Linked DNA regions of Homo sapiens. The protein of the gene in region 5 purifies or fractionates together with the protein of the main gene of each other region. This does not show direct contact. Each region holds a gene or a part of one and is shown on either strand. Other genes may lie near its edges. The genes, in order: AP1S2, DDX21, E2F2, MTF1, DCAF13, NAT10 and FIP1L1.

Region 1 (3,836 bases), on a different chromosome or scaffold from region 5:
CTAAAAGGTCATCATATGAGCTTTATAAGTAGAATTGGTGTATAGTACTTGCGTTTAATAATAAATGCTAAATCATTTCGATTTCAATTGTGTAACTATATCACCTAACATTTTTGAAGCACTTTCTATAAATTAGGCAGAGCCTTAATTCACTTAATCTCAACATATGAAGGTAAGTACTATTATCCATGTTTTCCAAATAAGGAAACAGACCATAGAGTTTAAGTAATTTACTTAAGATTACACCATGAAGTGCTTTACATGCAATTAATATTCTAAAGATTTATGGTTTAATATAATTTCTCTTCTCCTTGCTTTGTGCTGTACCATGATTAGGATGCGAAAGTAAGTTTATTACTGGATGCCAAAAATTTATATTATTTTCCATCATTAAAATATAGTGTTGCCTTTTAATTACAAAATTCGTTGCTAGTAATACCTGAAAGTTGGCCTCCTTGGTCCTTTATTTTGTGATTTGCAAAATCAGCCACTTTGGAAAATTATTAAATAATTTTTTCCTGGATATGCTTACTTTGTTTTGACCTCCTTTGACACTTAAAAACCAGTGCTGGTTGCTACATAGAATAAAAATGCCTTTGGCCCATGGCATTCTTTGCATATGTGGCCTCTAGTGATGCCATTGGTTGCACTGGGGAGGTCTGGGAAGATAGCTGTTTCTGAAGACTTGCCGCTGTGGACACAGTTAACTAAAAACTCCAAGAGGAAGACATTTCTATAAATGCATGTGACAAAAAGCATGGAACACAACAGTAGGCGAAGAACTGTGGGAACTCGGAGGGAAGAGGTTTTGAATTTTACCACTAAGATAACTTATCTTTCATATATATAATTGAGTAGCAGTGATTTCATAAATTGCCAGCAGGTTTGCACTGGGCTTGACTGCTTTTTGCATGACAGCAACGGCATCTAGCACATTGGTAGGTAATTAGCAGGTACTTAATGAATGCTGAAAACGTCCTTTTGTGGTCTCCAATTTTGAGGGCACAAAACCCTAAATAACCAATGGCTGTCAACTAGAATGCTACTGTGACACGAAATTGCTTTCTTGATTCTCTAAAACAAGCATGTTCTTCCATGTCAATGTTTCACATTCTCAAGACTCCCTGGATCTGCTTACCAGAGTCTCACATTTTCCCTCCACAGGAAGCTGAAACCCCACGTAGTGTTCTTGAAGAAATTGGACTGACATAACTCTCCTCCCTTGTTGATGACTTCTTGTGGCATTTCACACACTGTAGATGGTCACTCCCTTCATGTCCATGTTAGCTCATGGTGTAAGATGATGTCTTGTCAGTATTACTGTTTTGCTAAGCCGCTTCATTCATGCCTACACAATTTTTTTTTAAAAGGGAACTTTAGTTAATTAAGTGATAAGGGACTTAAATATGAATTAGAATGGTGCAGAAAGAGATACCTTTTCTGGATATTTTAAAGTTTAAAGGTCAGTTTCTCTTAATCTGATTATGTGCACATATGAAAATGGCACATCATATACATGTAAAATCAGGCAGTATACATTTATTAATTACTGTATTTGACAAAGGAAACTCTTAAATTATAATGTGAAACCTGGTTTTATGAAACCAAAGACTAGTGCAGCATTTCAGCATATGTAAAAAAAAAAAAAAAGGGAATTGACATGTCACATATCAAATGAATGGAAACTTTGTTGAAACTTTAAAAAGCAAATTTACTCCAAAGACTTGTATTGGAAATTACATACCTTTTTTTTTTTTTTTTAAAGGACTACAGATTATTTTTAATGACTAAATTGGAGTGATACTTCTTACACTAAAAATTATTTCTTAGGCATTCTGAATCTGGGATGAGAAACAGGATTGTTTCACAATAGTAAGCACATAATTTTTAAGGCCAAGGCACATTTGACTCCTGAGATGAATTTTTTGTGGTCATAATCAAATACTTAGTTGTTTTTGATGCCCCAAAATAAAGTGAGAATGGTAATTTGCCAGGAATTCTTCATAACAGTATCTTACAAAAAACGTGTTGCTCTCTTCACAGTATTATGTGTAAAGTCATTGTTTAAAGCACGAATGTTCCCTCTGGGGTACTTGTTAAAGCTAAATTTATTTTGCTTCCCTCCACTTAGAAGTGCTGCACACTTTACAGCAGCTTCCTTTCTTTCCATGGCACTGCCTAGTTAACAGAAGTCTTATAAAAATTTAAAAAGACACATTTCTTACAAAAAAGAGTTGAATGAGGTAAAATGGCATTAGATGGCTCTATATTTTTTAAAGCTATGTAATTGTTCAGCGTCACTTTTCTAAGTACTTATACATATCTAAACATGTCTTCATGGTTTATATTTTCACTTATATATGCTGGGCTGGATTAAGCTTTGTTGTGATTGTGACCAACATTCAGGCCACGTGAGCACTGTCTTATCACATCGCCAATTAGTTGTAATAAACGTTCAACGTACAAACACTGGAGTGTGTTTTTATCTCTTTCCAAAAGTTTGTCAAACTATGCAGAGCTGCTGAAGGAAGAATTTCTCATTTTTTTTTCAGTAAAATGTTGAAAATTCCCCTCCATTTGAATATGGTGGTTGTTATAAGCACACACAAGATACATGGTGGAAGATCTAAGGAGTCTTCATGTACTTCATTAAAAAATAACATGGATTCCATACTGAGAGCCTATCTACACATTTATTTTCAATCAATAAATGCTGCTTTTAAAACCTTGATGCAGTTGACTTTTCTACTCTTTCTGAATGAACAACTTAGACTGTTACTCAAAAGGTATTTCAAATCAACTGGATTCCTCTTACCCCCTTGTGAACTGAAGGTGCTAGCACATGCAACAGAAAGGGACTAATACTTGCAGACTGTACTACCTAACCTATGCAACAAATCAAATCTATGGTAATCATGATAGTTAAGGGACCTCCTATTACTACAGATAGGAAATGTTACATTCTAAAACTGGGCTATTTAAGAAGGAGGCAGGAACTACCATCAAATTAAGTTGCTAGTCTACTGGAAAAAAAGACGTTTATAGGTTTAAAAAGCCTCCAACATGCAGCTAGCTATTCACTGAAAACAGGCCTGTGGGTTTCTGCTAGCAATGTATAGTTGGAATTTTTGAAACATAAATAGTAATCAGGCAATATATATTAAAAAAAACTAATAAATTTAAGTTCAAGATGGACATTTATCAGGATAATGAACCAGTCAGTGGTTTAAAAACTTCCTGCCCTTCTACCCTGCCTATTAACATTTGAGGGGAAAGTCATCAATATCTCAGTTGTCCTGAGCTCAAGATGGTGGTTTTCTTTCTTAGCCTCCATGATTTATTAAGATTTCAGCTTTGCAGACCACATTTAATTGCATATATCTTGACTGTATTTAGAAAAGTATTAAAAAATACTGAATTTAATGATAATTACTCGGCGTTACTGAAATCAGTAGATAGTTCTAGGTCAATCATTTTCAGGGTGAAGCAGGCATTTAGAGTCTGGAACAAATCCAACTTTTTAAAGTGAAATTATCCTGGGCCACATGCATGATTTCTTTTATTGACTACACATGAAAGAACTCTCATCCTTAACAGATATCATGCAGAAATTCCAATTTTGAGGAAACTTTCTTCCTACTTAAATTTCGTTAACGTTTCAGTATTTTACGTATGTTTTAAGTCCTTATTCCCAAATCTCAAATTGAAAAATGTCACATACTCCAAAATTCTAGATCCCAAATATGTCAATGGAAAGAAAGCGACAAAAAATTGATAAAGCTGGAGAGCATCTTATTTATGATCAGAAATCTAGGTATAATATTTTGCCTGAAGCT
Region 2 (3,500 bases), on a different chromosome or scaffold from region 5:
AGGGAACCCTGTCTGTAGGACACTTAAAAAAACATGCCATGCTAAAATAAATTTGAAAAATGCAGTTAAAATACACTCTTCCAGGCTGGGTGTGGTGGCTCACGCCTATAATCCCAGCACTTTGGGAGGCCAAGGCGGGCGGATCATGAGGTCAGGAGATTGAGACCATCCTGGCTAACACGGTGAAACCCCGTCTCTACTAAAAATACAAAAAATTAGCTGGGCGTGGTGGCAGGTGCCTGTAGTCCCAGCTACTCGGAAGGCTGAGGCAGGAGAATGGCGTGAACCAGGGAGGCAGAGCTTGCAGTGAGATGAGATTGCACCACTCCACTCCAGCCTGGGCAACAGAGCAAGACTCTGTCTCAAAAAAAAAAAAAATACACTCATCCTTCCTTTCCTCCCTTCCCTGTCTTCTTTCTTCCTTCCTTCCCTCTTTCTTTTTTTTGAGATAGTCTCACTCTGCCACCCAGGGTGGAGTACATTAGCACAACCACAGCTCACTGCAGCCTCAACCTCCTGGGCTCATGCAATCCTCCCATCTCAGCCTCCAGAGTAGCTGGGACTACAGGCACTTGCTACCACATCTAATTTTTGTATTTTTGTATTTTTTTTTTTTTTTTGAGACAGAGTTTTGCTCTTGTTGTCCTAGCTGGGGTGCAATGGTGTGATCTCGGCCCACTGCAACCTCCACCTCTCGGGTTCAAGTGATTCTCCTGCCTCAGCCTCCCAAGTACCTGGGATTATAGGCGTGCGCAACCACGCCTGGCTATTTTTTTGTATTTTTAGTAGAAATGGGTTTTTTCCATGTTAGCCAGCTGGTCTTGAACTCCTGACCTCAGGTAATCCACCCGCCTTGGCCTCCCAAAGTGCTGGGATTACAGGTGTGAGCCACCGCACCCGGCCTAATTTTTGTATTTTTTATAGAGATGGAGTTTCACCGTGTTGCCCAGGCAATCCGCCTACCCCAGCCTCCCAAAGTGCTGGGATTACAGGCATGAGCCACCATGCCTGGCCCAAAACTCTTTCATTAACAAAACTTTCCTGAACTATTAATATGCTGATTGACATCCAGGATTTCCTTTGATCATGGACTCCCTGTGTCTGTTTTTTAAATAAGCATTTACAGTAATTGTGAAAACTACTATAAAAATGATGCCCAAACTCAGTGGTTCTTTAACAGAGAACATAGGTCACCATCAGGAGGCATCTGGAAAATGGTTTCTGGTTTTTATAATGCCAACCCTACTTACCCTGAGTATGTGGCACAGGGGAATCAGCCACGGATCCTAAGCAGCTAAATATCCTTCCATTTGCAGGACAATCCCATAAAAAATAATTCTCTTGCCTCCAATGCCAGCAGCACCTCCATTTGACAAACTGTTAATTAACCTAATCCTCACCATCTAGACATTTACTATTAACGAAGCAATCAACTTTCATCCTACCAGGGAAGGAACTGGATTAATGTAGATTTGGAATGTAATCTGTGGTCTAATCAGCCAGTGGGTGAGAAGCACCTATACTATACCTAAGATATTATCCCTTAAAATATCCTAGACAAAGCAAACTATTTTAATAGTGGTTTCCTCTGGTAAACAGGATAGGACAGGAATGAGTAGAAACGAGGGTATCCACTTTGTGAAATTCTACTTCAGCACGGTCTGGTTTTTTTTTGATAAACAGGTTATCAGTTAAAAAGAATAGGCTGTGCATGCTGGCTCACACCTGTAATCTTAGCACTTTGGGAGGCTGAGCTGGGAGGACTGCTTGAGACCAGGAGTTGAGACCAGCCTGGGCAACATAGTGAGACCCTGTCTCAAAAATTTTAAAAAAAAAATTTTTTTAAGTCAAATCTTATTACTGTACAAAGACATGCAGTATTTGAACCAACACTAAAACAGACCATAGCAGTGGTAGGGAACATACCTGATGGCATCTTTGCTGGAAGCTTTTATTATTTCTGTTGCAGAAGGAACACCTATTCGTTTGAACTTAATTCCCTACAGGAAAATGAACCACAGTTTAATGTACAGTGGCCATCAATTGTTTCCAATAAGATAAGCAGTCCCCTAATTTTTTAATATAGGCCAAATGTATGTATTACATTAAAAAATGAACTTTTAATTTTAGACTTACAGAAAAGCTACAAAGACAGTACAGAGAGCTCCAGGTTTCTGCTATTATTAACATCTTACACTGTTAATGTATATTTGTTTCAACTAAGAAACCAACATGGCTAAACTATTAATCAAACCCCAGACTTTATTCCATGTCTGTCTTTCCTTCTTTCCTTGTTTTTCATGACTTTGACAGTTTTAAGGAGTGCTGGTCAACAGTTTTGTAGAATGTCCCTCAGTTTGAGGTTGTCTTGTGTTTTCCTCATGCTCAGGGTTACATATTTGGGGGAGGAATACCCGAAGTGAATGCTCGCCTTACCACCTCTTATCAGGGGCACATGGCTATGTGCCTATCACTAATGATGTGACCCACGATCAACTGGCCCAGGTAGTGTTTGTTCATCTCTCCTCGGTAAAGTCCTCACTCCCCACCTTACTCTATTCTTTGAAAGCAAGTCCCTAAGTGCAGTCCACTCAAGAGGAAGGAGACGAGTGAAGCTCCTGAAGGGGCAAGAATCTACATACACTATTCCAATTCTCCTGGAGGAAAAATTAGTCTCTTCTCCCCTTTATCCTTTTGACATACCCTCATTCATTTGATTTTCAAGCAATTCCTACAGCCCCTCAATCTTAATTATCTCTGGTTCATATTTATCATTGTCTGAAAACTTCCTTTCAAACATATGAAAACAAAATCACTGTTTTCAAATGCAAAGTTACTTCAGAATGGGCCTTTTATCACAGGACAACATATGTACCTAACAATAAGCTTTCAGTCATTGCCACACACTAGAAATAAAAATATTTTAAAGTGGATAAAAATTGAAGAAACCAAAGACTGACTTTAGAACTCAACATTTGCTTAATGAAAGGTAAGAATAGTTTTACCGCTTTTTGCTCCACTTGTACTAACTGATATTCTTCCTTGTGCTGATAAAAGCAGATGCACACCCCCGTCCTTCCAGCTCTGCCTGTCCGCCCGGATCGATGAATGTAGGACTCTACATCCTATTGAAGTAAAATACATGAGTAACACTAAACCAAAAAAGAGAGACAAACACCTGAGTAGCCTATGCAGGTCAGTGAACACTAGCAATTGTGGTTATAAACCTGGGGACATGAGGGAGAAGGTCCCTTAGCACTTCAATTTAAAGACCTCTGGCAATTTTTAAAGCTTCTAGAACAATGGTCCCTGTCCTGCAGGCAAATTTACAAAGAGCATTGTCTAAATAGTGCTTGTCCATTAGAGGCATATATGTAATTCCAATTTTCAGTCTTCCAGTAGACAGACTGAAAAGATTTCTTTAAGAAGCTTAATGTATTTTAACTCAATATATCTAGTCTTTTTTTTTTCTTTTGAGACAGAGTCTCACTCTGTCACTC
Region 3 (4,582 bases), on a different chromosome or scaffold from region 5:
GAGACCACAAGTGTCCCACAAAGCCTAAAATACTCTCCAGCTTTTTTTTTTTTTTTTTTTTTTGAGACAGTCTCGCTCCGTCACCAGGCTGGAGTGCAATGGTATGATCTTGGCTCACAGCAACCTCTGCCTCCTGGGTTCAATCAATTCTCCTGCCTCAGCCTCCCAAGTAGCTGGGATTACAGGTGCCCGCCATCACACCCAGCTAATTTTTTTTTTTTTTGTATTTTTAGTAGAGACAGGGTTTCCCCATGTTGGCCAGCCTGGTCTTGAACCCTTGACCTCAGGTGATCCACCTGCCTTGGCTTCCCAAAGTGCTGGGATTACAGGCTCCAGCTCTTTATAGAAGTTTGCTGTCCCCAACTAACTCAACCCTTCTTTTAACACATGAATGAACACAGGCCCAGAGAGGGCAAGTGGCTTCCCTAAGGTCACACAGCAAGTTGATGGCAGAGCTGGGACCAGAGCCCAGCCTCCCAACTCTTCTCTAATGATCTCTCCTGTGTCTGTCAGGCCTCATCAGGGACCAGAGCTTCTCCCTGTGCTAGCCATCTGTCCCTTGGGACACCTCCCCAGTGCCTATCTCCCATCCCAGACCTCTGCCCCACCCTCTGGTCCATCCTCCTCCTGCTGTGCCTCCTCACTCAAGTGTCAGCATGCGCATAGCCCTCCGAAGCTGGAACCACCTTCGCTTCAGTTGTCCTCTGAGACCTTGGGTGGAGGTGGCAGATCCCAAAGCATAAACAAGGGTGTGAAGTTGTTTTTTTTTTTTTAAGACAGAGTCTCACTCTATCACCCAGGCTGGAGTGCAGTGGCACAATCTTGGCTCACTGCAACCTCCGCCTCCCAAGTTCAAGCAATTCTCCTGCCTCAGCCTCCCGAGTAGCTAGGAGTACAGGTACATGCCACCATGCCCGGCTAATTTTTGTATTTTCAGTAGAGACAGGGTTTCACCATGTTGGCCAGGCTGGTCTCGAACTCCTGATCTCAGGTGATCCACCCACCTCAGCTTCCCAAAGTGCTGGGATTACAGGTGTGAGCCACCGAGCCCAGCCGGGTGTGAAGTTTTTACCTGAGTTTTACAAATCAAGATCCTGAAGCCCAGAGAGGAGCAGAGGCTTACACAGCAGTCTGGTGGGGCCAGCTCTCATGTCATGGCTGTCCCCACGACCCTTGTCACATGGCCTCATAGTATTATCCCTGCTGAAGGGAGGAGGAGGAAGTTTTCCTGGTCTTGGCTCACTGCAACCTCCGCCTCCCAGGTTCAAGGGATTCTCCTGCACAGACACACACACACACACACACACACACACACACACACACACACACACACATGTTCCGTGCTGTGTTCTGAAATAGTATCATTTTGAGGTCTGAGTGCCAGAAGCCATGTAAGAGAGGAAGCCACTACAGTCTTGGGACCTGGGTCCTGGCCCTGGTTCTGCATTACCAGGGGAAGTGTTCTCTGCAGCCTCAGTTTCCCTCATCTGTAATGGAAGGGGTTTCAACAACATCATCTCTGACATTTCTCCAGGCTCTGACATTCTGAGATACACCTAAATGTAGCTGATGGCACAGGATTTGAAATTGGGAGACCTGTGTTCAAGCCTGTATCTCACTTCTTAGTGACTTGGTGACTGTGAGTGAATCACTTTAACCCCCCAAAGCCCCAGTTCCCACATCTCTCAAATGGGGACACTTGAAATTTCCTCATGAATATTGAATGGGTTATAGAAGATGACATGGCATAAATGTGATTTAAAAAAAAAAAAAAAAAACTTATGTGGCCAGCCGCGGTGGCACACACCTGTAATCCAGCACTTGGAGAGGCCGAGGGAGGTGGATCACTTGAGGCCAGAAGTTCCAGACCAGCCTGGCCAACACGATGAAACCCCGTCTCTACTACAAATACAAAAATTAGCCGGAGGTGGTGGTGCATGCCTATAATCCCAGTTACTCAGGAGGCTGAGGCACAATAGTCACTTGAACCAGGAAAGCAGACGTTGCAGTGAGCTGAGATTACACCACTGCACTCCAGCCTGACCGACAGAGTGGGACTCTGTCTCAAAAAAAAAAAAAAGCTTGTGTGAAGAGCATCTACTGAGCTGGGCCTGGTGCTGTTTTAGAGACAGAAAAGCAGTAAGAGCCATTCAGAGTGTGGTGGAGAGACACATATTACAAAAGGCGATTCTATTTCTGGACGTGATCAACAGCAGGAGACAGCAAGGTCTGACCTATAATAGAGATTTTCACATGTGTTTTATCAGTTACTGCTTCTAATACTCATCCCTGTTTTTCCACATGAGGAAACAGAGTTCTGGGGTTCCATGGCTGGTGAGAGGAGGCGCTAGAGTCTGAGCCCACATGCTCCCCGCTCCCAAGCCAGGCCTCTGACTGTAACATCAGCAGCGTGCCAAACAAACCTTAGATTTTTTTTTTTAATTAATATACATTTAATGGACTTCTTTGGGCCCTAGTTTTCTCATCTGTAAATAGGGGTAACAGCATGGACTCCCTCAGGGCCATTTGAGTGTGCAAGGAGGCTGAACCACGCCTCGCCTCAAGGGCAGTGCCACCACCTCCCCCATTAGCCTTGGTAAATGGGAGCAATTTTTAACAGGAGCAAGGGCAGCATGCAGACCCGACAAACCAGTGCTTATTTATTTATTTGTTTGTTTATTTATTTATTTTTATTTTGAGACACGAGTCTCGCTCTTGTTGCCCAGGCTGGAGTGCAGTGGCGTGATCTTGCCTCACTACAACCTCCACCTCCTGGGTTCCAATGATTCTCCTTCCTCAGCCTCCCTATTAACTGGGATTACAGATGCCTGCCACCATACCCAGCGAATTTCTGTATTTTTAGTAGAGACGGTGTTTCACCATGTTGGCCAGGCTGGTCTCGAACTCCTGACCTCAGGTGATCTGCCTGCCTCGCCCTCCCAAAGTGCTGGTATTATAGGCATGAGCCACCGCACCAGGCCAAACCAGTGCTTCATATGCACTTACCATGCGGTCCTCTGAGCAACCCTTTGAGGTAGGTAGTGCTATGCTGCCCCATGCAGAGGGGAGAAAATGGATGCTCTAAAACGTGAAGTCCAGAGCAAGACTCCATCTCAAAATAAATTAAATAAATAAATAAAATGTGAAATCACATGCCTATGGGTGCACCACCAGTCTCAACAGGCAGCCTAGCATCCCAGCGCAGTTGTATCTTCAGAATAATACTTGGCTGGGGCTTAAGGAGTGACTGCAATGTGGGGGATTCTGAGCATCAGGATATATGTGGCAGGCAATTTCCAGTGCTTCATTGCATGTCCCTGTATGGGAAATCACCGTCTTAACATCTAAGTGGAAATGAGCAGGTTGGGTGTGGTGGCTCATGTCTGTAATCCCAGCACTTTGGGAGGCTGAGGCAGGAGGATTGCTCGAGCCTGGGAGTTCGAGACCAGCCTGGGCAACAGAGTGAGACCCTGTCTCTACAAAAAAGTTTAAAAATTGGATGGGCATGGTGGCACGCACCAGTGGTCCCAGCTACTCAGGAGGCTGAGGCGAGAGGATTGCTTGAGCCCAGAAGGTTGAGGCTGCAGTGAGCCGTGTTCACCCTACTGCACTCTGTACTCTAGCTTGGGCAAGACCCTGTTTCAAAAAAAAAAAAAGAAGGCGGCGAGAAAGAAATGAGCATAGAGTGCTGGAGAATGGCTACTGAAAGGTCAAATAAGATGAAGCCAGAGAAATGACCATTGGGTTTAGCAGCATGGATGTCACTGGCTCAGGGACATGGTGGGGAGAGACCCCAGACTGGAGTGAGTTGAAGAGAGAATAGTAATAGGGAAGTGGAGACAAGCTGAGGCTACTCTGGAGAAAGTTTACTGTGCAAAGGAGCAGAAAAATGGGCCAGTAATTGGAGAGGGTGATGAGGTCAGGTATAGTTGTGTGTGGTGGAGAGTAGAGGCAACATAACAAAAATTTACCATCATAACTATTTTTAAATGTACAGTTCAGTGGTAATTAATACATTCATAATGTTGTGTAACCATCACCATTCATCTCCATAACTCCTTTCACCTTGTAAAACTGAAACTCTGTACCTATTCCCCATTCCCCTCTCTGCCCAGCCCCTGACAACCACCCTTCTACTCTCTGTCCCTGCGATTTTGACTAAGTATCTAATGTAAGTGGAATCACACAGTATTTGTTTTTTTGTGATTGGCTTATTTCACATAGTTTAATGTCCTCAGGGTTCATCTATGTTGTAGCATGTGTCAGAATTTCTTTCCTTTTTGGCCGGGCACAGTGGCTCAGGCCTGTAATCCCAACACTTTGGAAGGCCGATCACTTGAGGTCAGGAGTTCGAGACCAGCCTGGCCAACATGGTGAAACCCCATCTCTACTAAAAATACACAAATTAGCTGGGTGTGGTGGTGCATGCCTGTAGTCCAGCTACTCGGGAGGCTCAGGTGGGAGAATCGCTTGAACCTGGGAGGCAGAGGTTGCAGTGAACCAAGATCACAACACTGCACTCTAGCCTGGGTGATAGAGTGAGACCCGGTCTCAAAAAAATAAAAAATACATGAAAAGTTGT
Region 4 (4,582 bases), on a different chromosome or scaffold from region 5:
CCAAGCAGCCTAAAAACATTGCTGTAGGCCAGGCGCAGCAGCTCACACCTGTAATCCCAGCACTGTGGGAGGCCAAGGCGGGTGGATCACCTGAGGTCAGGAGTTCAAGACCAGCCTGACCAATATGGTGAAACCCCATCTCTACTAAAAATACAAAATTTAGCCAGGCCTAGTGGCACATGCCTGTAATCCTGGCTACTCGGGAGGCTGAGACAGGAGAATCTCTTGAACCCTGGAGGCGGAGGTTGCAGTGAGCCAAGATCGTGCCACTGTACTCCAGCCTGGGCAACAGAGCAAGCCTTCACCTCAATTAAAAAAAAAAAAAAATTGCTGTAACTGTGCTTGTTGGTAGAAAATGATACCTTTCCTAATCAATGTGCTGGAATACTTTGGTGCATCATGTAGAATAAATTTTGCATACGATTCCTAGGGTTTTTTCATGCTCCTTGGCCAACTACTCTATAGAAAACTGGCAAGGTCAGTTAGCCATGGAGGATACATCACGTCACCAATGTAGTGCAGACAGAGGTAGATGAACAGGTAACTAGACCGTCCTGGCAGGTTCTATGGAAGGGCACAGATTCAAGAATGGACTGCACAAACCAACTAAAGAAAACACAGTTGCCAGGTGTGGTAGCTCATGCCTTTAATCCCAGCAGCTCAGGAGGCTAAGGAGGGAGAATTGGTTGAGGCCAGAAGTTCCAGGTTACAGTGAGCTATGATGATGGCCTGGGCAAACATAGCAAGACCCAGTGTCTTAAAAAAATAAAATAAAATACGTAAACAAACAAACAAACAACAAGACGCAGCTGCTTCGAGACTTGGAGTAGAAAGGCCTTAAAGGGCCAGACATGGTGGCTCATGCCGGTAATCACAATACTTTGGGAGGCCAAGGTGGAAGGATTGCGTGAGCCCAGGATTTTGGAACCAGCCCATAGTGAGACCCCTCTCTACCAAAACAACCACCAAAAAGTAGCCGGCACAGTAGCACATGCCTGTGGTCCCAGCTACTGTGGAGGCTGAGGTGGCAGGACGGCTTGAGCCTGGGAGGTTAAGGCTGCAGTGAGCCATGATCGTGCCACTGTACTCCAGCCTGGCTACAGAATGGAACCCTGTCTCAACCAAAAAAAAAAAAAAAAAAAAAAAGCTTTTGTTTTTAGGCAGAATGAAAATATTTTGATTAGAAATTTTGCAAGCTGGCCAAGTGCCATGGCTCATGCCTATAATCCCAGCACTTTGGGAGGTCGAGGCAGGAGGATTGCTTGAGCCCAGGAGTTTGAGGTTACAGTGAGCTACGATCCCACCACTGTAATCACTCCAACCTGTGTGACACAGTGAGACCCTGTTTCAAGAGAGAAAGGAAAGAAGAAAGACAGAAAGGGAAAAGAAGGAAGGAAGGGAGGGAGGAAGGGAATGAGAGAGAGAAAGAGAAAAAAAAGGGAGAGAGAAAGAGAGAGAGAGAGAGAGAGAGATCTCAAAGCTACCAAATCAGTAGGGAGACAGTAATGAAATAACAAGTATGAGAATAAGATACGTGAAATTCGAGTCAGAATGACCAGCGGCCTTGTGGTAGGAAAAGACTATCTGTGGCAAGGTTCTGGTTGGTTTATTTTTTGCGCAAGACAAGCATGAAGAAAAGAAAATGAAGTAATAGGTAAGCCAACTCCACACTATATGAAACAATGAAAAAACCAGGAGTAAACAGGAAATTCAGGCTAAAATGTGACTCAGAAAATAAGCTGCTTGGGAAGCCAAGAAGACCAACTAGTTATCAAATGATTTGATTTCTCAAGAGTAACACCTGTGCATGGAGGGAAAAGAAAAAACCAAAAACCAAGCTGAAAAAAAACGAAAGGAAAAGGAGTAAGGAAGAGCTAAAGGATCATGAAGTCTGTTATCGAGTAGTCATAAACATCAGCCTCTTCAGGCCAAATAAGTGGATTTTAATGCCAAAATAAAATCACTGCCAAAACAAAAGCTAAGCTAAGACAGTGCTTCAGGAAGGCAAGCCTCCTGAATGTCTGGTCATTAAGCAAGATTTTCGAAGACTAAAGCTACTGCTACTTCTCCTTCAATCTCCACCCAACCCCAAACCTACTGATTTCAAGAATATAGCATCTTCCACAAAGGTCTCATGGATAGCATGGAAAAATGTGGGTGAGAGGAAAGTGGAGTGAGCTAAATCCCCAGCAAACTGAACAAAGTGCTCATAATATCCTTGACCCTGTGCTATTCAATATGATTATCAATGATCTGAAGACAAGAATGGCAAACCAGACTTGCAAATAGAATAAACCAATTTGAATAGTACAAAGTGGAAAAGTGACAGCTTTTCACTGATTGCATAATCATTCCCTCTGTACCATCTCCTCCTCTTCTGCCTAGATCAGCATTTCCCAAAATGTGTTCCACAAAACACTGATCCCTGGAAATTAGATCTGAAAAATGGTTTCTCAAGTTTAAAGCATTTGAAAAATTCTGTGTTTTCTTCCTTCTTAGCTGTTGGCACATCAAAGGCTCTGAGAAGTCCTAATCAACAAATTTCTGTCTTGGTTTAACTTAATGTTTCCCGAACATTCGCTCATGAAACACTTTCACACAGTAATCACTGATGGAGGATGGCCTAAAGTTTAGGTCCTAAACTATGTCCAAATTACCTATGCTAAACAAAAATGATTCAATCTCCTTGAGCTAGCTACTACTGCCTCATCACTCTTCTTCCTCTAACTACCAAACTTATTTAAAAAAAAAAAAAAAAGCCAACTTGACATTTCCTGCCTCCTGTTTCCTCATCACTCACTCACTTCTTCATCACTCAAAACCTGGCTTCAGCCCCAGTGCTCTGCTGCAAGTCTTCTCATGATATGTGAACAACTGCACAACCAGCACAACTAAAGGCTTCTTCGGGGCTCCTCAATCCCTCTGCAGGGTCACACAGGAATATTCTCATTTGTTGACACTCTCTTCCTTCAGCTTCCACAACACTGCAGTCGACCCATCTCTTTGACTACTGTGATCTTCTTGGGTTCCTCTTTCTCTTTCCAACCCTTAAATTCTCAGGCCAACTCTTACTTCTCCCTTAAGTAAACTACCCACAGTTTGAAGGCCCCTTTCTACTACTATTCTAACTCCAAACCATTTCTTTGACCTCAGATACACGTTTCCAATGAGCTTTCCATTTGTTCATGTTACTTTTCTCCAAGGACTATACATTCAATACACTCCTACCAAACTCTTTAATTACCCCATCAAAACTTTTTCCTTTTCCCATCTTTCTTGATTCCTATGAATGGGATCACCATTTGGAGGGTGCGGAGAGCAGAGTTAGCCACTTTCTCCTCAGCATGCACACAGCACTTCGAATACACCTCTGTTAAAATATCTACCACAACGGACTCTTAACTGCTTAACTCTTCACCTAGATTTGAGCTCCATCAAAAAGCTGTGCTAAGACACAGCAGAAACTCAACAAATTTGGGAAAATGGATGAATCCTTTCAATCAACATGATTCAAAACCTTTTTTTTTTTTCCAACCAGATTCTCATTTTGTTGCCCAGGCTGGAATGCAGTGGCACAATCATGGCTCACTGCACCCTCCGCCCTCTGGGTTCAAGTGATTCTCCTGCCTCAGCCTCCCAAGTGGCTGGGACTACAGGCATGCACCACCACAACCGGCTAATTTTTGTATTTTTAGTAGAGACAGGGTTTCACCATGTTGGCCAGGCTGGTCTAGAGCTCCAGACCTCAACTGATCCACCTGCCTCTGCCTCCGAAAGTGCTGGGATTACAGGCATGAGCCACTGTGCCTGGCCTATTCAAAACCTTTGAATCATGCCCAACTCATGGCTCATTCATCAAACTCCAATAACACGTACGAAGTTCTCTCGTACTTCTACAAAAGTCCTTGATTCTTCCCATGAACAAGGCCACTATCCTTTCTTCAGATTTAAATGAAACCCCAAACATAAACTACAACTGTCTCCTAACTAGGCAAGAAGTCTCCAGTTTTCCTCTGCCTCCAAGCTACCTCTGCTGCCAGACCAATCCTTCTAAAATGCTACTCTAACCACATTCTCTATCTAACCACTCTAGCCTTGGCTTAGACACCTCCAATGGTTTCCCACCATTTCTAGGAGAGTACAGTTCAAAACCCATAGAAGGTTACCACTGCCTTCCATGTTTGGATCTTTGCTATCTTTCCATCCTTATCTCCTTCTACTACTATGTTCTAGTCTAAGGGTCAGCACACTACAGCCAGTGAACCAAATCCACCCCACTGCCTGTTTTTGTAAAGTCTTATCAGAACTTGGCCATGTTCATTCTTTATGTATTGTCTATGGCTGCTTTTGTGCTACAATGGAAGAATGGAGTAGCTCCAACAGAGACCTTATAGCCTGCAAAGCCCAGAATATTTACTATTTAGCCCTAAGCAGAAAAAAGTGTGCTGACTCTGTTGTAACAGGACAACTGGCTATTCCCTGAAAATGGCCTGTTTCCCACCTGCATTCCTTGTTTCATGCTGTTCCTCTCTCTTGGAAAAACCTTCTCCTGCTTTTTTCCTAAATTGTATGTATTCTTTAA
Region 5 (4,582 bases):
GGGAGCCTTTGGAAGTTTTAAGCATGGGAGTGACATGTAAAAAGCTGTTTTAAGATGACATCTGATAGGCTGGGCGCAGTGGCTCACGCCTGTAATCCCAGCACTTTGGGAGGCCGAGGCGGGAAGATCACGAGGTCAGGAGATCGAGACTATCCTGGCTAACATGGTGAAACCCCATCTCTACTAAAAATACAAAAAAATAAATAAATTAGCCGGGCATGGTGGCGGGTGCCTGTAGTCCCAGCTACTCGGGAGGCTGAGGCAGGAGAATGGTGTGAACCCGGGAGGTGGAGCTTGCAGTGAGCCGAGATTGCGCCACTGCACTCCAGCCTGGGCAACAGAGCAAGACTCCGTCTCAAAAAAAAAAGAAAAAAAAAGACATCTGATAATAGTGTAAATTGCCGCCAAATCAAGTAGGGATGATATTAAAGTAGCCCAAGTATAAGATAATGAAGACCCAAACTGCCTGGGAATGCAGTGGCTCACATTCATAAACCCAACACTTTGGGCGGCAAAGGTGGGAGGATCTCTTGAGCCCAGGAGTTCGAGAGTAGCCTGGGCATCATAAGGAGACCCCCGTCTCTACAAAAAATTTAAAGATTAATGGGGCATGGTGGTGCATGCCTCAGGTCCAAGCTACTTGGGAGGCTGAGGTGAGAGGCTAAGGTGGGAGGATCACTTAAGCCCTGGAGGTTGAGGCTGCAGTAGGCTATAGTCATATCACTGCATTCCAGCTTGGGTGACAGAATGATACCGCATCTCAAAACAAAAACAAAAACAAAACACAAAAAACTAGAAATAGAGAGTTGAAAGATGAGTAAGTGTTGCAAAGAGATGATGAGTAGGACTTTGAGTTTTGGTAGTAGGGAATATGGAAGATGGAATACATAAGAATGACCTAGGCTAGAGCTTTGTTGAATGTTAGATATAACACCATTACCAGGGAGTCAGAAAGAAACAGCAGGATGAAGTCATGGGGTAAGAAGATGCATTTACTTTTTACTCACTGAGTTTTTTTAGACATACGAGCTTAAAATTACTTTCTAAGCATAATTATATATATATATATATATATATATATATATATATATATATATTTTTTTTTTTTTTTTTTTTTTTTTTTTTTTTTTTGAGATGAAGTCACACTCTGTCAGCCAGGCTGGAGTGCAGTGGCGCGATCTCGGCTCACTGCAACCTCCACCTCCCAGGTTCAAGTGATTCTTTTGCCTCAGCCTCCTGAGTAGCTGGGACTGCAGGCACATACCACCCCCACCGCTGGCTAACTTTTTGTATTTTTAGTAGATGGGATTTCACTGTGGTAGCCAGGATGGTCTCGATCTCCTGACCTCGTGATCCGTCCGTCCCGGCCCCCCAAAGTGCTGGGATTACAGGCGTGAGCCACCACGCCCGGCCCTAAGCGTGATTATTAACCAAGACAATGTGTTTAGCAGCGTATCAGGACAGTTAAAACATAGATTCTGGAGCCATACTGCCTTGGTTTGAATCCTGGCTCCACCGTGTCGTATTCGAGTTACTTAACCTCTTTATGCCTCAGTTTTCCCATCAATAAAGTGTGAGATAGTAATAGAACTTAACACATAGGATGCTGTGGAGATTAAACGGTTAAGGTTTTTGGAACAGCGCCTGGCACTTGAACTCTTATGTGAGTCTTTTTTAAGTAAGTAAACAAACATAGAAAGTGCTCAGTAAATGATAGCTATATAATATCATCATAATCACAACTTCGTGTGTCTATCAGCACAGTATTTAGCACCAGAGATTAATAATGTTCCCTGCCCTACAGGAAGCTTAGAGTTCTGTTGAGCAAACATCTTGCACATATTTTGTCCCAGAAACTGTGCTAGGCATAAGGAAGTACAAATGAAAAGTGTATTGGAAGCCCTGACAGTGAACACTTACAACCCAGTTGAAGAGGGTACTAGGACATATAAAAGGGAGGCCGGGCACGGTGGCTCATGCCTGTAATCCCAGCACTTTGGGAGGCTGAGGCGTGTGGATCACGAGGTCACGAGATCGAGACCAGCCTGACCAATATGGTGAAACCCCATCTCTACTAAAAATAGAAAAATTAGCTGGGCGTGGTGGCATGCGCCTGTAATCCCAGCTACTCGGGTGGCTGAGGCAGGAGAATTGCTTGAACCTGAGAAGCGGAGGTTGCAGTGAGCCGAGATTGCGCCACTGCACTCCAGCCTGGTGACGGAGCAAGACTCCGTCTCAAAAAAAAAAAAAAAAGGAAATGCTGCATGTATATATACCTAGGGTCTAATTGTTTTGCAAGATGTATGCATCCCATGATTTTCCAGTAATTTCAGAAAGATTTCTGAACAACAGGTCTTCTACTTTTGTATTCTTAGTGTTAGGCATAGAACAATGTCACTAACTAAATGCTTATTGAATAACAGAGTGATTAGCTGAGGAAGACTGCAGGAAATATTAAGTGTGAATTATTAAGAAGGATCATTCTTATTTCAGTTCCAAGAAACTATGATCCTGCTTTACATCCTTTTGAGGTCCCACGAGAATATATAAGAGCTTTAAATGCTACCAAACTGGAACGAGTATTTGCAAAACCATTCCTTGCTTCGCTGGATGGTCACCGTGATGGAGTCAATTGCTTGGCAAAGCATCCAGAGAAGCTGGCTACTGTCCTTTCTGGGGCGTGTGATGGAGAGGCAAGTGTCAATCTAGATGATATTTTCAACTAAAAGTAGTTATATTACAAATGTTTTCCCTTTAGTTTTTAGTTACTGTAGGTTTTACTTTATTGGATTTCAATTTACTTCTCAAGACTAAATTTCGTTAGGAATACTGTTTAGTATTTTCTTCTTTAAACCTAAGAAATTATAAATGCAGTAGTTTAAGGATCAATTTGACAGTAAATTAAATAATCATGTTTATAATTAAAGTATTTAAGTATGAGTTTTTTCACAGATGTTGTCAACACCTAATTTCCTACTATGGCAAGTGAAAAAGTTTTGTAACACTTTAGAATCAACAGAGTATTTGTCAGGTTGTATTTTTTGCTCATCAGTATACTTATCCATATGCATTGCATTGTTTTAATCCAAAGGATTTTGGTTTTAGCTGCCCAGTAGAGTGATTCGTAGCCTTGTCAGTGTTGAATTTATCCTGAACATTTTACATTTATAGTTCACTGAAATTTCCTGGTATGCCTTATCATAGGTTAGAATTTGGAATCTAACTCAGCGGAATTGTATCCGTACAATACAAGCACATGAAGGCTTTGTACGAGGAATATGTACTCGCTTTTGTGGGACTTCTTTTTTCACTGTAAGTATAATACCATTAAGTCATTAAATTTGATCAACATAGGTAAGAATAATCTAATTGAATACATTTTTTTTCAAGTTCATTTATTTGTTCCTAGGCCCTTTTGGAGTTTCACAATGCAAAATAGCTTATTAAACCTTGAAAATTACTAGTTTTCTTTATATAATTCAGCCTTCCCCATAACTTAACATGATTAAACTAATATTCAATTTACCACAAAAGTGGAATTAATGAGAGGTAAGTCTAGAAAGAGTTTGGCTTACTCTGGAGGATTTTTGATGCTAAGATGAGTAATTTGTACTTTTGTTAGTCAGATAATAAGGAATCATCGAAGTTTTGTGCCTGTGTGTGGCAAGATATCCGGAACGTAAAATTTACTCTCTGTTTTTAAATATACAGTTTGGTGGCATCCAGTACATTCACATCACTGTGCAACCATCACCACCATCTGTCTTCAGAACTTTTTCATCATCCCCAGCTGAAACTATAGTCATTAAACAATAACTCCTCTGTCCCCTCAGTCCCCAACCCCTGGTAACTACTATTTTACTTTTTGCCTCTGTGATTTTGACTATTCTGGGTACCTCATATAAATAGAAGCATATTTTAAAGAATTATACCATTTTGTGTATGTGGAATAAGGCTTTTGGGTCTGGCTTATTTTACTTAACATAATTGTCTTCAAGGTTTATCCATGTTGTAGTACATGTCAGAATTTCCTTTCTTTTTATGGCTAAATAACATTCCATTGTATGTGTCACATTTTGTTTATCCGTTCATTCATCAATGAGCATTTGATTTGTTTCCACCTTTTGGCTATTGTGAATAGTGTTGCCGTGACCATTGGTGTACAAATACCAATTCAAGTTCATTGAAAGTCTTTTTAAACAAGGGGAACGACAAAATCTGAGCTGTGCTTTGAGTTAAGTAATTTGACAGCAGTTAGTGATCAGTTTGAAGGCCATTTTAATAGTTTGGCAGGCAATAATAAGAGGCTACCTTATTATGGAGACTGAAAACTAGAAATCAGTGGTTGATACTTTGGAGGATTGACAGGTTTGACAACTGAGAGGTGCCTGGGAAGAGGTTGGTTCCTGTTGCTGAGGAGTACCAGCAAGTTTTGAAGGGTGGCAATGGGAAGGATATGATGTGACAAACTGGACTGCTAATGGGCTGTTCGAGTGAAGATGTCTGTCATACCTTTACAGATGCAGGTCTGGAGCTCAGGAGGGAGGTCAGAGCTGAACTTGACATCATCAATATAGAACTA
Region 6 (4,582 bases), on a different chromosome or scaffold from region 5:
ACAGGAATCAAAGAAACAAAGAATAAAACAAAGACCACCAGTGCTTACACACACATGCACACACACACACACAAAGTGAAACTTAGTCTATTAACTTGCCAGGCAAGAGAATACACACCAGTGCAGAAATTCACCAAGTAGTCTCTGAGAGGTAAAGTGAGGGGTTTTTAAGGGCTAGAAAAGGGGAGAGGGGCCTTCATGGTGGGTATGCCACTCAGGCACTCTGGACAGGACATTTAAGTGCATTGGTCTATATCCGGTTGGAAAACAAGTCCCATTGCTCACTGGACAAAAAAAGTCTTTGGTGAATGCCAATAAGGACCTAGGGTCCTAGAGGCACTCAAAGTCTCTGGCATTTGCTTTATCAGCTTTAGCTAGTTAGAACCCGTTATAATAACTCATCACTTCAGTTCTGGTGTCTCTAGACAAGTGCTGATTTAAAATTCTCTTTTTATATGGGGTAGGTGACCGAGTGTACTTTGGAAAGTGGCCAGGACTTCCACTAATAATGCTTGGGCATAGGGAACATGGGACTCTCCTCTCCTTACTGTACATCTGTTCCCAGTGGAAAGCCAGGCAGCCCAAGCAACCCTCAAGACTCTGACTTCAATCACAGGTTAGAGGAAGCCACCCACCTGCAGCACACACATGCCGAAGGTATTGCCCAGGATCTTGTGGGTCTCGTTGTAGTAGCAGTAGCGAATGTTTGTGGCTGCTATGAAGAGTTCAAAGGGGTCGTCCTGCTTTATGTTCAGTGTTCCATTCTTTATTTTCTTCTGCAGCTGTCGCATTCTTTTCTTCCGGTGACTGCAATCACACACCCCCAATCCCATGAGAGCCAGTTAACCAGAGCAGCTAAAGAGCTGGAACCAGGGGAAAGGCTCAGTGATCACCCACTTAGACTTTCAGAGCTAGTAGGGAACTTGAAAGTGTGAGGCCCACTTCAGGTGGAGGGCAGTGGAGAGGCATGAGAGGCATTAGAGTGCTTAAGGGCTTGGAGTAAGTGATAAGTCTATGTGTGAACTCTGCTATTTTGCCCTGTGACCTTGAGCAAATACTTTGCTTTAAAAGATGGGTAATAGGGTAGCTAACCCTCACATTTGGCCAAAGCCAGAGCTTGAAACCAAACCTGAGTGGCCTCATTATCTCAGTCATAAGCCAATGCTTCAACTACACTGTGCTGTTCCCCAGAGATCCTAGGAAAGACAAGGTGATGGCACGTTACTTTATTCATCCTTCCTAGAGGACTTCCTCCCCGAGAATGTGGGATTATGTCTTCAAGGGCAGGTCTTACATAAGACAATAATGATACAGGACACAGGGATCAGAATGGAATCTGGACATCTCTAAGGAATTCCTGAATTTTTTTGGTCTTAAAAACCCTGCATATCCAGTTGCTACTTACCTTTCCTTTACCAAAAGAGAGAATTAGAATGTTCTAGAATGGAGGATTACAGCTGATCAAAATTTTACCATAGTTCTCTAACTTAATAGCTAGAACAAAGGCCTTTCCTCCTGTGGGCCTCCACTTCCTCATCTATGAACCAAGGCAGTGGGTGAGTTTGTCTCCACTGTCCCTTCTGGCTCAGGCCTTAAGCCCGTGACTTACAAACAGGCATTAGCTTGAACACAATGCTCTGCCAGACTAAGACAGGGGTGGGGCAGAAGAGCTATAAGAGGTACAAAAGTAGATTTTTAGAAGTGAAGCCAGGTGGTTTAAATTCAAAAGGCAAATCTGCCCAGAAGACTTTGAACTGCCTAATTCCACACCCATCTCATATTTGCCAAATGAAAAATAGTGAAAACCAGAAGCCCTAAAAACTTAAAATTCTGGGATAGACAACAGGCCTTATTCTCAATCTGTATTAAAAATGCCTACCTCTCTAAATATGAGAGTATATACAACAGAATACCAATTATGGTTCAAAACTACATCCCTGTAAGATACACCTAGATGCTGACAATGCCTAGACAGTGAGATGTTTTTTATTTTCATCTTTGGGTTTTCTGCACTTTTCACATTTCATCAGTAAGGCTCTTATGATTGTCTGGTTTCCTTTAGGCAGAATCCCTTCACTTTAAGACCACAGGACAGGGGCAAGTTTAGCCTCTGGTACTAATTTAAATTAAAATAATTTTAGAGCCTGTTAACAACACATCCAACTCAATGTATACTGAGTACCTATGATAAACATGCTAAATCAGTTAAAAGTATGAAAATACAAAGATAAATAGAAGAGGGCTCCTAACTAAATAAGCTTATCACCTGAAAGTAAAAAAAAAAAAAAAAAAAAAAAAAGGGAAAGAAAAAAAAATGAACGTAAGTCACAGTATGTAAGTGACTTTACCCTAAAGCAAAAGCATCCATTGGCAAACATTATAGGAGAAGGACAAGTGCAGAGGAAGGTAGAGGAACCACCAGGTATGACTGGGGGGCTCAGGAAAAGTTTCACGGAGGAGGCAGGCCCTGAGAAACAGGATTTCAATAGGTGATACCGGGGAGGTGGAAGTGGCATTCCAAGCAGAGGAGACAGCATGAGCAAAGAAAAGGAGGGAGGTTAGTCACAGCATAAAGCAACCAGAGCTGGAGACAGGCTTTCAGAGTCAGATCGGAGATGAGCACATTTGGAAATTAGAAGAGGCTCAAGGACAGAATCGCACAAGCCAGCTAGGTTTAGAGTAAGGAGACGAGATCCAGAGAAAGAGAAGAGCTCCGGAAGGTGGTCTGAGTAAAGACACTGAAGCCAAAAAAGGAGACTATTTCTTAGGTGATGCCATGGTGGTTATCTGCCAAGGAACAGCACTACCCACCCCATCCAAACTTCTCCAAACACAAAGTTGTAGGTAGAACTTCCAACTTTGTATTATGCTATGACCAACCCCACCCTCCTCTGGCCAGGTGTGGGCATTTTTCCACCAGAATTTTGGGAAAAAGTCTGATTTCCACATGGCTGGGCCTGAAACAAGGAAAACGCAAGTGTTGTTTCTGCTAGGGGGACAACAGAAAACAGAAAGCTGGTCTGCAGTGAGAAAGTTGGTCTGCATAGAGCAGATACACTGAGATGACAAACTGAGCTGGGAGCATTAGTACTGTGACTCTAGATCACCCGTGAGCAGAGCTGAAATCTTATCCCCTTGGATTCCAGGAAATATCCCATATACCTCAATGAAATCCCTTTGTGCCAAATTGTATTTGTGTTGAAAGTATGTTATCTATGACTAAAAGTCTTGACTACCACAGCTTCAAATAGCCAACTGTCAAATACAGCAGTGAACTGGTAGAAGAAGAGGCAGAGCTCTGAAAAGGAGGAGAAAGAGAGAGAAAAGTTGACGCATTAGGCATCAAGCTGCTGGGGATGTCTAACTGCACAATTTGATCACAATTATAGAAGCAGAAACCAGACTGCAAAAGTGGCTACTAAGTGCAAAAGATTTCTGTTTTAAGGTATATGGCAATAAAAATCGGGGGAAATGCTAACCTGAGAGAGAAATCTGGGTATGTAAGTAATCAGCTTTTGATAATAGAAAAATCTGAGCATGTTTACAGGAAGGAGAAAGTTTCCAAAGGGTATTGGGTGGCCAGCAGAGGAAAGACAATACAGGTCCTGAAAGAGGTGAGGGAGGAGACACAGGGTACATAAAGGGGTTTTCCTTGGACATGGGATGAGGCATATACCCCCTCCATGAAAGAAGGGGAGAAAAAGAGAGAGAGTGAAAAGTGGAATAAATTTGAGGTAGGAAAGACAGTTTGAAGGAACTTGCAATGAGATGGGCTTAATCAGCCTAGAAAAGCAGGAAGGAAAACCATATGCAGAAGGCAAGGCATTGGATTGGTGACTTAAAAAGCATGAAAATGATTTGAAACTTATTTTCAGGAATGAAGAAAGGATATCAGCTCCATTTGTCCTCAGAGATAGCACCTCCACTAAAGACCCTTAAAAAATATGTGAAGGAATCATTTCCTGGCATTTAACTAATGAGCAGGAATTGTAAGTTGGATAAAACACATGAAGAGCCCAGCTTACCTGCTAAACCCCAGCTCTTTCTTATAACACCACAGCACTGAAGGCCGAGCCTTCACAGTTGCTTTGGATAACATGTGATGAAGTATTACCACCTGCCAAACAAAAAAGTCACAGAATTTCAGGCACAAAAGAGACTTTAGAGACCGCCAGGCTTAAGACCTCATTTGACGGATGTGGAAACTAAACTGAGGGCCAGGGAAGGGAAGTGCCCAAGGTTCTAAGGCGAGCAATGACCAGGTTTGGACTAGAAGCCAGGTCACATACAGTTCACTTTGTGGTCAACCCACCACCCCAGGCTTCAAAAGGTATTAGCTTGTCTGCGAATCAATCTAAATACAGAGAATTCACCACTTCCAGGAAATAAAGAAAGGTTCCCACTAGGCATCTTACCAGCCAAAGAGATCTTAATGCCATTATGTCCTGAAACAGCAGAGTGCTTAAACATGCTGATTCTTTGGACAAGATAAAAAGTAATTCAGGAAGCATTTACCAGGCCATACCTGATCTTTTCCTCGATCCCCAACTACAACAAAGAGAGATCTTTGCCGCTCAGCTAC
Region 7 (4,582 bases), on a different chromosome or scaffold from region 5:
TAGGTGGTAAAATCACTGGTGGTCTTTTATTTTTCATTCAGTAAACCTATATACAAGTTGAGTATTCCTAATCCAAAAATCTGAAATCTGAAATGCTCTAAAATCCGAAACATTTTGAGCATCAACATTTTATCACAAGTGGAAAATTCCACACCCAACCTCACATGTGACGGATCACAATCAAAACTCAGGCCCACTACACAGTTTACTCAGGGTTGCCAAAGGAAAAAAGATTATCATAAATTAACAAATCATTATAACAAATTAAATAACTTATTTATGAAACATAAATTTCATGTTTAGACTTGGGTCTCATCTCTAAGATTACATACGTATGAACATTTCAAAATCCAAACATTTCAAAATCTGATACACTTCTGGTCCCAAGCATTTCAGATAAGAGATACTCAACCTGTACTATGTTTCTACCAAGGAAAAGAAAGAAAACCCTATTAAAAAAAGATTCAGAGATTATAAATTCTAACTGGAAATGCCTTTATAATAAATGACTGGCTTCACATTTTAAATCTCTTTGTATCACCTAAAACACAGCATAGCACTATGACTATCTATTGAATAAATTAAATTATAATGTTGATATCATCCTTCAGTTAAAGAAAATTATTTATTTTAAAATACTAAACCTGTATGTTGCTGTTCTCATTTGCCCGTCGCCTGCCTTCTACTCGGCTGATAGTTATAGTCTGACCGATAACATCAATTGCCCCAGGTAATCTCCTGTAACATAAAAATTGAATCAATTCAGTTTCACCTAATTAGATGCTTAAAAAATAATAAAAGCAGTGAGAAATAAAAACAAAATGTGTTTGCAATAAATTTTAAAATAAAACCAGATCACAATACACATTGAAAAATATCCCTGAGTTTAAGCTCACTACTTTGCATTGTCATAAAAATTTTTATTAATAAACAAGCTAGAACCAACATACCCAACAATGATCATAATGTTAAGTTTTAAGTCTCTGTAGAGCTCTTCTACACTTACTAGTTTTAGTAGTCTCCAAATAAATTTATCTTTGTGAAATTAAATAAGACAGCAAATGCTAGACAAATGGAAATTTTGGGACCACTACAATTGTAACACATACTACAGCTCTATTACAGAAACTTTAAATATTCCCCAAAAAGGCCTGAAAATAATGCTCATTTTAACATACACAAGATATTTTCCTTGTGATATATTCCAAGTGTTAAAAAACATAAAAAAGGAACCAGTTTGCCATTTCTGATAACTTGCATTTAGATAGAAAAATTCAAATATTTAAATACCCGCCTCACCTCTACAATCTTTTTAAAGTTTATAAGGATATGGAAAAATAGTCTATCATAAAACAATGCTATAAATTTAAGAGAAAAACCTAGTAAGTTGTATTTTAAATAAAATAATGTTAAAAGCTATTATGCAGATAAAGGACTTTACAAAAGTATGCATGCCTAAGATGATATAGAAGTCACTTGGAGAAATAGGCAATGAAAAGTGGATGCAAATTAGATGAATTTCTCTTCATCTATATTTCAGTTCTGAACAATACTGCCTTTAAAACTTTATAGAAGCAAAACAATTAAAATACCATAGATCCTTCCACAGTCACTAGATTAGGCTCCTAAAATGACAAATAACAGCAGCTACCATAGGTTGGATGCCAAACCCATTATATCTAAACTTCACAAAAACTGAAAAATTACTGTATACTTGTTAGAGACAAGCCATGGTCCAAAGTGAAATCACTGACACAAGCATGAATTAAATAGCAAAACTAACTTTCAAACCTGAGTCTTTCTAATCCCAAAGACTATAGACCTCCCCTCCCCTTGAGCTAGGTTTCCTTCCAGCAAGACCTTTGAGGAATTTAAGGCTTTTCTGGAAATCATGAGTTAGTAAGAGTTTATCTCAAGTAGACCTTGAAACACTCCACAAATTATTTTGTGCTAACAAAGACAGCCCTATAAAAAGCACATCATGACATCTGAAATGTTTTCAAGTACATAGTCAGTTCCCACTTACCATCCCTTGCCCACTTAAGACTTCCCTTCTCTATAACTTTAGTACAATTTAAAAATGTTCAAGCCTTTCTAATTTTATGCCTGAGTCACTGACTTCCTAGATTTCCTCATGATCCCAAAGATCATGAATGATTTCATTGGAGGATTAACATATCCTCCAATACAGCTGGGGAAAGATCTTAATATTCACATGTTACAAAAATCCAAATATCTCTACAATAAAACAAATATTGCTTCCATTTCTTCCCTATAATTTAAATTGCAAAGCTATGCCTACCATGACTGCATTATCAAAGCACATGCCATCAGCCCTCTGATATACAAACATTTCATATTCCAACATCCTACTAAATACAGGTGTGCATTCTGAGGCTGTAATTTCCTCTCTGTTAATTGCTGCCCTCCATTGTCAAAATTTTTATTTTCGCTCTATTTCCTTTTCTACTATTTTCTCTTGCCAATCACTGGACTCTCTCCTTTGCATTTTTAAATTTATTCCCATCAAGAACAAATTCTACCAAATTTGTTTGGACTTGCAAGTCAGATAGCAAATTCTCCAAATTGTTAAAAGTGGTAAAAATTAGATCTAGATATAACTTTCCTGTTGAGGGGAAAATTTTCTATAGCCTGTCTTTTACCATTTATTTCTGAGGATCTCTAGTTTTCAAAAAGTCTGGGACACATGGAAGTATTCACCTCTTAAAATGTACCTTAAATATGGTCAGAAGTCTAATTAGTTTTTTTCAACTTTAAATTGATTGTTTTTAATCACTAAAGATTCAAAATGGCAAATACTATGTTTCTAAAAACATATAACTGAGAAATCAGCCTTAACAAGTATATATCCCTAAAGGGAGTTCAGAAAATTACAATTCTCCACATTTTCAAAACATCTCCTTGTGCCCGTATTTTTTAACCACATAAACTGATTTACTTTAATCATATAAATTAAGCTTACCGTTTTGTTCCAAAATGTTTTATGATAAGACACACAGTATGTACCACAGCAACAAAAAGCACATAATATCTAACACTGACAAATAATTTAAAAATCTAATATTATTCTGATGCCACATTATGGAAAAAAATATTGAACCATATTATTCCACGAAAGTTCTTAATGGACAGCTTTTTCTTTCATTGCTTAAGAAGATTTAATAGAGTTTCCCTATGAGGAAATCTACTGTAACTTAAGAGTTCCCCAAAGCGTAGGTTTGATTAGGCCAACAAACTTGTTCAGTAAGGTAGACAGCTAATGCTATTATCAAAATCCTCTTCTCCATATTGGACTCAACCATCTAGTAAAAAGCTAAGAAACTAACCACTCTGGGTGTCTGAGTTAATGTACAGTTTAAACAGGCAGTAAATGTTCCCAAGAGCCTCTACCTCCCCTCCTGGCACAGTAAATGAATATAAAAATATCTCTGAAGTTACAATGGAATTAAATTATCATATTTTGATGATTCTGATATCCCAGAAAGAATCTGAGGGCTCCCTGCAGAGATGCAACAGAAAGTTTAAGATGACAAATCAGGGCTAATAGAAGATAGACAAAAGGCCATAAATTGATCTCTGAAGGTCAGGCTCACGCATGTAATGCCAACACTTTGGGAGCCTGAGGCGGGAGGATTACTTAAGCCCAGGAATTCAAGACCAGCCTGGGCAACATGGCGAGACTTTGTGTCTACAAATAATTTAAAATATCAGCTAGGCATAGTAGCACATGCTTGTGGTCCCAGCTATTCAGAGGGCTTAGGTGAGAGGATTGCTTGAGTCCAGGAGATGAAGGATGCAGTAAACTGTGATTGTGCCACTGCACTCCAGACTGGGCAACAAAACAAGAGCCTGTCTCAAAAAAAAAATATATATATATACATATATATATATCTCAGCTGCTTTTTCTTGGAAGCCAAAGCAAAGGACATCATTAACAACAAATGTCTTTAATGTGCATTAAGATTAAAACAAAGCATTTGCTCTAAGATTGTTTTCCTGGTAATGACAGCTAGTATTTATGGAGCACCTACTATGCGCAAGGTAAGCACTGTTCTAAATACTTTATATATATTTAGTCTTCATGATAAACCCATAAGGTAGCAACTCTCATTATTGTCATTTTACAAATGAGAATAAACAGAAAAAGATTCTCCTCTGAGTCTAAGAGAAAATATGAGTACAATAGTTTTTAAACTTTATTGACTACAAAACACAGTAAGAAGTACACTTTACACAGCAATCCAGTACCCACAATACATTAAAAACTAAAAAAGATTCATGAAACAATACTTAAAAAAGGAAAAATGGTGACACTAAGATAAAATGTAATTTTATTAATATTTAAATATAGCATAGGAAAAAAGCAAAAGAAACAATACAAAACCAAGAAATACTGGTTGGGACCACCAAATTGTTTCACAACCCACTAATGGATTGCAATCTCATGTTTTCAAAAATATGGAAATAAAGTCTCCAAAATTCCTACCAAAAAAAATTGAATTTTAAAGAGCTATTTCTCAAAATGCCCTTTAATGCTGAGTGAAGCACAACAATGCCCAAT

What was found.
Region 1: the proteins of DCAF13 (region 5) and AP1S2 purify together in Homo sapiens (affinity purification with mass spectrometry, with the first as the bait; one large-scale study listed by BioGRID). This does not show direct contact.
Region 2: the proteins of DCAF13 (region 5) and DDX21 purify together in Homo sapiens (affinity purification with mass spectrometry, with the first as the bait; one large-scale study listed by BioGRID). This does not show direct contact.
Region 3: the proteins of DCAF13 (region 5) and E2F2 purify together in Homo sapiens (affinity purification with mass spectrometry, with the first as the bait; one large-scale study listed by BioGRID). This does not show direct contact.
Region 4: the proteins of DCAF13 (region 5) and MTF1 purify together in Homo sapiens (affinity purification with mass spectrometry, with the first as the bait; one large-scale study listed by BioGRID). This does not show direct contact.
Region 6: the proteins of DCAF13 (region 5) and NAT10 purify together in Homo sapiens (affinity purification with mass spectrometry, with the first as the bait; one large-scale study listed by BioGRID). This does not show direct contact.
Region 7: the proteins of DCAF13 (region 5) and FIP1L1 purify together in Homo sapiens (affinity purification with mass spectrometry, with the first as the bait; one large-scale study listed by BioGRID). This does not show direct contact.

The regions. Positions count from the first base shown.
Region 1 is NC_000023.11:15,824,701-15,828,536, reverse strand, and holds the end of AP1S2 (AP-1 complex subunit sigma-2), read left to right. Parts: intron 1-336; coding exon 337-345; intron 346-1,164; coding exon 1,165-1,212; 3' UTR 1,213-2,731; downstream 2,732-3,836. UniProt on the Homo sapiens protein: Subunit of clathrin-associated adaptor protein complex 1 that plays a role in protein sorting in the late-Golgi/trans-Golgi network (TGN) and/or endosomes.
Region 2 is NC_000010.11:68,973,170-68,976,669, reverse strand, and holds part of DDX21 (nucleolar RNA helicase 2), read right to left. Parts: intron 3,126-3,500; coding exon 3,006-3,125; intron 2,001-3,005; coding exon 1,927-2,000; intron 1-1,926.
Region 3 is NC_000001.11:23,510,315-23,514,896, reverse strand, and holds part of E2F2 (transcription factor E2F2), read left to right. Parts: intron 1-4,582. UniProt on the Homo sapiens protein: Transcription activator that binds DNA cooperatively with DP proteins through the E2 recognition site, 5'-TTTC[CG]CGC-3' found in the promoter region of a number of genes whose products are involved in cell cycle regulation or in DNA replication.
Region 4 is NC_000001.11:37,849,118-37,853,699, forward strand, and holds part of MTF1 (metal regulatory transcription factor 1), read right to left. Parts: intron 1-4,582. UniProt on the Homo sapiens protein: Zinc-dependent transcriptional regulator of cellular adaption to conditions of exposure to heavy metals. Binds to metal responsive elements (MRE) in promoters and activates the transcription of metallothionein genes like metallothionein-2/MT2A.
Region 5 is NC_000008.11:103,417,771-103,422,352, forward strand, and holds part of DCAF13 (DDB1- and CUL4-associated factor 13), read left to right. Parts: intron 1-2,493; coding exon 2,494-2,693; intron 2,694-3,204; coding exon 3,205-3,312; intron 3,313-4,582. UniProt on the Homo sapiens protein: Part of the small subunit (SSU) processome, first precursor of the small eukaryotic ribosomal subunit.
Region 6 is NC_000011.10:34,108,277-34,112,858, reverse strand, and holds part of NAT10 (RNA cytidine acetyltransferase), read right to left. Parts: coding exon 4,526-4,582; intron 4,118-4,525; coding exon 4,026-4,117; intron 808-4,025; coding exon 636-807; intron 1-635. UniProt on the Homo sapiens protein: RNA cytidine acetyltransferase that catalyzes the formation of N(4)-acetylcytidine (ac4C) modification on mRNAs, 18S rRNA and tRNAs.
Region 7 is NC_000004.12:53,422,028-53,426,609, reverse strand, and holds part of FIP1L1 (pre-mRNA 3'-end-processing factor FIP1), read right to left. Parts: intron 739-4,582; coding exon 645-738; intron 1-644.